Regions from separate parts of the Homo sapiens genome. Here region 2 is linked to region 1. Evidence: fine-mapped expression QTL. Tissue or cell type: lymphoblastoid cells. Region 1 holds a variant in brackets; the other region holds the start of a gene. All regions are shown on one strand. Distances are from middle to middle.

The links. PIP is the estimated chance that this variant, and not a neighbour inherited with it, causes the effect.
Region 2: KLHL25 starts here. The variant in region 1 is fine-mapped to the expression of KLHL25 in lymphoblastoid cells (GTEx, PIP 0.97).

What each region holds. Positions count from the first base shown.
Region 1 is chr15:84,930,100-84,934,312 of GRCh38, forward strand. It overlaps SLC28A1 (solute carrier family 28 member 1), which reads left to right. Exons shown (of 19, transcript NM_004213.5): 13 at 3,046-3,176. Among named protein-coding and RNA genes, the nearest start is that of SLC28A1, 48 kb to the left of the region's middle. The variant C/G (reference allele first, on the strand shown) is at 1,987.
Region 2 is chr15:85,793,023-85,797,235 of GRCh38, forward strand. It overlaps KLHL25 (kelch like family member 25), which reads right to left and starts at 1,903. Exons shown (of 3, transcript NM_022480.4): 1 at 1,744-1,903. RefSeq lists silencers at 1,574-1,873, 2,024-2,093.

The DNA.
Region 1 (4,213 bases):
TGGGTCACCCAGGGGACAGTGTGCAGGAATGTGACAACTGCAGGGTGTGTTCTCTGCCGTGACTCAGGTTTACAAACCAGATGTAATCTACAAGTCAGAGGAAGGGTCAGGGTCCTGCCTGGTGGAGGGAAAATCCCAAGATTCCAGGTGTGGCACCATCCCAGCTGGGGCTGAGCAACTGAGGAGGAAGCAGGGGAAGTCCCAAAGCCCAGCCCAGAAAGTCCAGAGAGGACACCTGCCCCAAGTGGGTTTCATCCAGCAAGGGGCAGGGGCCCAGGCTTGCACACCCAGTGTCCACACAGGGCCCTGGGGAGGTATCAGGCTGCTGCCAATTCTTGTTCACATTTTAAGAAGTTTTGTCGATCTTTAAAAAGAAACAACTGGGGTTTAGAAAAAGAAGAAGGACACAATACCTGGGATTCAGAGCCTGAGAGGGTCTCCAGCCTGGCTTCTCAGCAGCAGGCCTGGCACTTCCCTGAGATGGTAATGAGGGGTGCCCACGATCTGCCCTCTGCTTTTTTTTTTTTTTTTTTTTTGAGATGGAGTCTCACTCTGTCGCCCGGGCTGGAGTGCTCAGCTCACTGCAACCTCTGCCTCCTGGGTTCTACCCATTCTCGTGCCTCAGCCTCCCAAATAGCTAGGATTACAGGCACCCACCACCACACCAGGCTAATTTTTGTTTTTTTTTGAGATGGAGTCTCGCACTATTGCCTGGGCTGGAGTGCAATAGTGCGATCTCGGCTCATTGCAACCTCCGCCTCCTGGGTTTAAGTGATTCTCCTGCCTCAGCCTCCCGAGTAGCTGGGATTACAGGCACACACCACCACACCCGGATAATTTTTCTCTATTTTTATTAGAGATGGGGGTTTCACTAAGTTGGCCAGACTGGTCTCGAACTCCTGACCTTGTGATCCTCCCACCTCGGCCTCCCAAAGTGCTAGGATAACAGGTGTGAGCCCCACGCCCGGCCTAATTTTTGTATTCTTAGTAGAGATGGGGTTTCACCATGTTGGCTAGGCTGGTCTCAAACTCCTGACCTCAAGTGATCTGCCCGCCTTGGCCTCCCAAAATGCTGGGATTACAGGCGTGAGCCACTGTGCCTGGCCTGCCCTCTGCTTTTATCAGCCTGAGTGTCTGTCTTCAACTTACCTCCCTCCTCCTTTTTATTTTTATTTAACACTTTAGAATGCAGTTGGCTTATTACAAACTTTAAGAAGAAACATCTATTTTGCTTTTTGTTTATTAAAAAAAATATTGTTGTGGACATTTTGAGAGATACCAAAACACCTGTAATCCCAGCACTTTGGGAGGCCAAGGCAGGCAGATCACAAGGTCAGGAGATTGAGACCATCCTGGCTAACACAGTGAAACCCCGTCTTTACTGAAAATACAAAAAAAAAAAATTAGCTGGGCGTGGTGGTGGGCGCCTGTAGTCCCAGCTACTTGGGAGGCTGAGGCAGGAGAATGGTGTGAACCTGGGAGGTAGAGTTTGCAGTGAGCCAAGATGGCGCCACTACACTCCAGACTGGGCGACAGAGTGAGACTCCATCTCAAAAAAAAAAAAAAAAAAAAAAAAAATGAAAGAAAAGAAAGATACCAAAATGCAGAAAGAAAAGAAAATCGGCCGGGGATGGTGGCTCATGCCTGTAATCCCAGCACTTTGGGAGGCCCAGGTGGGCAGATCACGAGGTCAGGAGTTCGAGACTAGCCTGGCCAACACGGTGAAACGCCATCTCTACTAAAAATACAAAAATTAGCCGGGCGTGGTGGTGCACACCTGTAACCCCAGCTACTCTGGAGGCTGAGGGAGGAGAATTGCTTAAACCCAGGAGGCGGAGGTTACAGTGAGCCAAGATTGTACCGCTGCACTCCAGCCTGGGCAACAGAGCAAGACTCTGTCTTGGAAAAAAAAATAAAGCAAGAAAGAAAATCACCCCTGGCCCCAGCAGCCAGGGACAGTCAATTCATTGCCATTTTGGTGTATTT[C/G]TTTCTAATCTTTTCATGCGCCATTTTGGAGTTTGTTTCCCCACTGCCCCTAGTTTTGGTTCTTCTCTACCTGCAATGTTGTGGGCCCTTTCCCACTTCACTGTGAGGCCTTGATGACCATCATTTTCAATGACAGCCTGACGACGCTTAGCCGGTCTCCCATTGTTAGATGTCTGAGTTGGTTCTGATTTCCCTGCTTGGTAAATGACACAGTGATAGGGGGAAACGTGTCATATTTCTCTGTGGAAAAGAACAGAGAAGCAAAGGGTTTGGGGTCCCAGTGAAGATAAAACTTCAGGAAGGGAGAATCCCAGGGGCTGACATTGCTCTGCCATCTTGCTGGGAGTGGTTTTCACAGCGTGGCTCCCAGAAGGAGACTGAGGGTCAAACGGTGGCTGTCATAGAGGCAGATTTCCTGAGAAGGAGTTCTCAAACTGCAGGACTGGATGTGATGGGTTGGCTTGCAGTGGTGAGTTCCCCGTCACAGTAAGCATTCAAAGAGAGAGCCTAGAGAGGGAGTACCTTCCTACGCTAGTACATACCTACACTAAGGTGGAATTGGTTTAGCTCTTAAATCCATTTCATTTCAACTCTTAGGTTCTAGAGCTTTGTCTGAAAGCATTACAAATTCCTCCACTAAGGGGGAAACCTCAGCTAACGGGGATTAGTGGTCAACAGTGACAGCCTAAAAAGGAAGAAAGAACCTTGAACTTGGAGCCAAAAGATGTGATAGGCTCTAATTCCTTCTCTTCCTTTATTTTGGGAAGCCATATTTAATCCTTTGGAGTCTCAGTTTTCTTGTCTGTAAAATGAAGATAACAATATTTGTCATTCCTAACTTAGGGAGCACCAGGAAGAAATAGAAGGTCCTATACATATAGCCTGTGACCTTCTACACATAAAAGGTATTATTATTATTAGTGATGACAGCAGTTATGACAATGAGGACATATCAGTGGGACAGACTACACATGTGCCCTTGCTGCCCTGGGCCGCACTCCTTGGTCGCCAGCATTTCTTCTGACTGTCCACCTAGAACCTGCACTCTCACTCTTGCAGATCGATGCCACCTCGTTGATTGCAGCCTCTGTGATGGCTGCCCCTTGTGCCTTGGCCCTCTCCAAGCTGGTCTACCCGGAGGTGGAGGAGTCCAAGTTTAGGAGGGAGGAAGGAGTGAAACTGACCTATGGGTGAGCACAGCAGGAGGTCCTGCAGACAGGGTAGTGGTACAAGGTGGGGGGAGCAAAGCAGAGGGTCCCGTTCTCTCTGTCCATCACTGTCTTCCACTAGCCTGGGCCCATCTCTCCACTTTTCCTGCTCTGGTTTGGGCTTCATTTGCTGTCTTAGTCCATTTTCTGTTGCTTATAACAGAAATCCTGAAACTGGGTACTTTATAAAGAATAAGAATTTATTTCTTACAGTTATGGAGGCTGAGAAGTCCAAGGTCGAGGGGTTGTATCTGGCGAGAGCCTTCTTGCTGCTGGGGATTCTGCAGAGTCCCAAGTTGGCACAGGGCATCACATGGCGAGGGGTTGAGGGGTGCCAGGCAGGGAACTGAGCATGCTAGCTCAGATCTCTCTTCTTCTTCTTAAGAAGCCACCAGTCAAGTCCAGGTGCGATGGTTCATGCCTGTAATCCCAGCACTTTGGGAGGCTGAGGCAGGCAAATCACTTAAGGTCAGGAGTTCAAGACCAGCCTGGCCAACATGGTGAAACCCCATCTCTATTTAAAATACAAAAGTTAGCCAGGCATAAAGGCTCACGCCTGTAATTCCAGCAACTTAGGGGGCTGAGGCACGAGAATTGCTTGAATCCGGGAGGTGGAGGTTGCAGTAAGCCTAGATCGCACCACTGTACTCCAGCCTGGGCAACAGAGCGAAACTCCGTCTCAAAAACAAAACAAAAAGCCACCAGTCCTACTCCCATGATAACCCATTATCCCATTAATCCAACATTCAGGAATGGATTCATCCATTCAGGAGGGCAGAGCCCTCATGACCCAATCACCTCTTAAAGGCCCCACCTGTCAATACTGCCACATTGAGGATTAAGTTTCAAAATGAGTTTCCGAAGGACAAACATTCAGACCATAGCATTTGCAAAAATGCGCACTCCAGTTCTCACATCTTAATGTCCAGTCTCTGACCAGCAGGAAACAATGGACCAGGCAAGGCTTGGGAGTGTGGCCTGGTTCTTGGTCTGTGGCCTGGTGTGTGTACATGTTGAGG
Region 2 (4,213 bases), 860 kb after region 1:
ACCACCCACTAAATAACACTCTCACTCATCCTACCCTTCCCCCCGCCCCCGCCCAAGTGATAGACGGGACGAACCAAGCTTGCTTTCACTGGGTAATTGTTCTCTTTTCTTCCTGCTCTCTTCTGCCCACACGGGGTGCCCGCAGATTTAAAACGCTATTAAGGGGCATCGGGCTGCAGAACCTGCTTCCGATGTGGAGCATGCAATTTGCCTATAGCTCTTCTCTCCGCACCACATACATAAATCCAACTGCAGCCCAAGACCCCAGGATGAAGGTGTCTTCCATTTCTACCTCCCTTTTATCAACCACCCTGGAGTCACTGCCTGACAAATGACTCAAAACTGAAATAGCTGCCAGGCCGGAAAAAGACTGACTACGTCAACCTTCACAGGCACAGCTTGTGGACCCAAGAGCCTCCGGTCTTGGGACACCAAATGGACCCTGAGGTGGGGTAGACTTTGTGTCCTACTCTTCCCCAGACCCCCACGCAAGCCTTCACCAACATGCCAGGAATCCTCACAGCTCAGATCAGCACACTGAGCATCAGTTCCTCCTATGAATGGGGAGACTGGGACCCAGGGTCCCAGAGGGCTTGGCCCCATAACGGTCACTGGAATCTGGTCCAGGATACAGACCGTGGAATCCTGCCTCCTCTCCTGGTGCTACTGCTAACTTCCTTCCCTTCCTCTCTCTATTGGGCCGATAGAGTGGAACCAAATGGTCCAGACACCTGGCATTCTCTGCCCTGACTACCGAGGAGAGTCAAAGTCCAGCCCGCCTTCCCCAAGGTCAAATTCACCGGGATCCAGCAGGACCCAAGAGCGTCCAGATTAAATCTGCAGGGGCCTGGGTCCGCCCCCTCACCCACAGTTCGTTGGGTCAGGCCTCTAGAGAGATGTTTCTTTGTTCAAAGACAATGGGAATGCACTTTGGGGGCTTAGAGCAGCAACACAAAAAAAGTATCTGGTATCTCCCGGGCACAATCCCCCAAGAGAAAAGCTTCTAAAGCAACTACGAAAGAGACAGGGGGAGTGGGGGCGTAACATCGCGCGGTGTGTCTCGGAGCCAGGGCAAGTGTGGTAATTAGAGTCAGGCTAGAGGGCTTGCTCTGGACCTGCCAGTCTGGCCGCCACCCAGGTGGACAGGTGGGTGTGCCTTTGAGTGCGACCTTTCTCTGCCGCTGGACAGTTCTGCAAACCGAAACGAGGGACCCTGGCAGGCGGAACGTGAACGGCTCGGGGCTCCGCGGCCAGGCCCGCGCAAACCCTCCCCTTGTGAACCCCGGGCCCTCGCTCTGCGCCAGGCAGGCAGCCATCCGGCCTGGGCGTCCAAGGCGCGGGGCATCGCCGCTCGCGTCCTCAAAGACAAGCAGTCTCTCTTTCCAGGATCAATAGTAATTTTTTAAAAAAAAGAGTCTGCGGACTCAATGAATCAACCACTCCCTGGGGAAAGAGTAGCGGCTCCCGCGCGCAACATCCATTTGCCAAACAATTCATTCCCTCGCGCAGAGCTCTCGGCGAATTCCCTCGCGGAGCCGCGGGGTGCCGGCCGGCCGCCGCTCCCCACCATTGTCCCAGGGCCCCGGCCCCAGCCGCGGGGCCCCCTCCCGGGACACGTAGTCCCGCGGGGGCTCCGAGCGCTTGGTCCCGGCCCGGCCCGGGGTGGTGAGTCCCCAGCGCAGGGAGCGGGGGCGCGGGTGCTGCGGCCAGAGCACGGCGTCCCCGCCCGGCCTGGATACTCACTGCCGGAGACGATCCCCGCCGCCGCCGCCGCCTCAGAGACCACTCCCGGCAGCCCGCGCGAGCTCAACAGGCTCCGCCGCGGCTCCCGTCGGCCGGCTCTCCACAGGCAAAAACGCTCTCGCTGCGATACAGCCTAGGCGCCGCCAACAAACTAGTTTCTCCGGCCTTCCCGCCCCGCCTCCCGGCCCGAAGAGCAGCAGCCAATCAGAGGCATCGCCTCTGTGACGGATGGGCAGCCGAACCCTTCAGTGCAGCCGCAGAAAAGAAGGGGGTGGGCCCCAGGCCGCGCCGGCACCGGGGGGTGGGGGGCCGGGGGCGGGGAGGGGGGGGGACCGGGGGCGGGGCGGGGCGAGGAAAAGGACTTCGACCAGATTCTTAAAGAGACAGGCGCCTGCCCAACCCCGCCGCCCAAGTTTGGGAACAAAACGCGACGGTGTTCTAGAGCTTTCCAGAGGGAGCACTGTAGATTGCATATGCCTCTTTTGTGTTCGGGTCACAAGTGTTGTAGATCTCTTTAGACTCTTCAGAGCCACACTAGTAGTTGCCCGAGTGTTAATGAAACCCTGTCTTTCACTCTGGGCTTGTTTGAATGTTTGGGACTTTCTGCAGCCTCCAAACCCCACCTGTACTTGAAATCTGTATTTTTTGGAGTATTTCAGCTCTCCTCTCTGTGTCATTTCTCACTAAACTCCTTTCGTAAGCCAGCCTTTAAATGTTCGTTCATTCATTCATTCATCCATCCATCCAATAATTTCTTCCAGGAACGTTTCCTGGACGCCCACACCATGCACTCATCTTGGAGGGGGAGAACGGTTTGTGATTCTTCGTCCTTTTCCCTCCTGACTACTACTTCAGCTTACTGTGTGTGTCCAATCTCATCCGTAAAGCGGCAGATAAAAACTCCTCATCGGATTATTTGGGGGATTAAAGGAGACAAATTCCCAGACAAATGAGTGCGCAATAAATGTCCTCTCTTTTCTCCCTCCCAATGAAAATCGATAATTCAAGTAGGTTGCTTAAGGATACAAAAGGTAAAGCATAGAAAGTGATAAGAACGAAAGAGCCAAGCCTGGGGCGGGGAAATTCCCAGGAAGCAGAGGTCACCCTGACGGAGGTGGAGGTGGGAGGTGCAAGGAAGGTCTAAGAAAGTGTACAAAGATTTGGGAGAGGGGATAGGATTGTGACTAGTGGAACCTGGGAAATAGAGCCCCTGGGTAGAAAGCTGCTTAGACAGGACAGATATGCCAGGGTTAAAAGACTGGGAGATGATGAGAAGATACCACCAGGGAAGGCATTTTTGGGAAACAGCTTGATGTTCTGGGTTTGAAGCCCCGCCCTGCCCCTCAAGAGCTGGGTAGGACTGAAGCAGATGGCTCAGACTCTCTGGTGTCTGGTTCTTACTGGTGAAGAGGATTCTAAAACCTTTCTTGCAGGGGTATGGGAAAGATTAAGATAACATATGGAATAGGCCTGGCATGTAGTAAGTGCTCAGTACAGATTTGTGCTTCCATTTGGCCCAGATCTGCAGACATCTAAGGCACCAGGGTTCTGATATTTATGAACAATATTGGCCAGAGGTAAGAAGCTTGCCAAGTGCACTGTTAAGGTGCCTTCTGAAGAGAAAAGGTAGTGAGAGGTGAAGCCAGCTGGACTTTCTGGGTCCAGTGGGGACTTGGAGAACTTTTCTGTCTTACAAGAGGATTGTAAAATGCACCAATCAGCGCTCTGTATCTAGCTAGAGGTTTGTAAAATGTACCAATTAGTGCTCTGTAGAAATGCACCAATCAGCACTCTGTGGCTAGCTAGAGGTTTGTAAAACGGACCAATCAGCACTCTGTAAAATGGACCAATCAGCAGCACATGGGCCTGGACAAATAAGCTAATAAAAGCTGGCCGCCCCCCAGCCAGGAGCAGCAACCCACTTGGGTCCCCTTTGGCGCTGTGGGGGCTTTGTTCTTTCGCTCTCCACGGTAAATTTTTCTGCTGCTCACTCTTTGGGTTCACGCCACCTCTAAGAGCTGTAACACTCACCGTGAAGGTCCGCAGCTTCATTCCTGAAGTCAGCGAGACCACCAACCCACCGGAAGGAACCAGCTCCAACACATTAGCATCAAAGTAATTACTTCATTAAGGAAATGACAGAGATCACATTTGTAGTTTTATCCTGCCGATTTTCTAGCACTAGAGTGTTTATAGAATTGTTGGTTGAATGAAGCTCCACATGCAAAATTGATTCTTGGCAAGTTTATAACTGTTGCTTATTATTTTATGCAGGTTCGCTGTAAAATTATAAGTGCCAACCGCCCAGTAAAATCTGGTCCACATTATAATTTTTTCTCTCTTCAACTCCAAGGCTTAAATTAGGTACTAGAATATATTAAAATCAAATACAGTGTAAGCAATGGGACAAAATCAGACTAAGAACACGTGTGGAGTTAATCGAATTTAGGTACGATTTGAAAGAAGATGA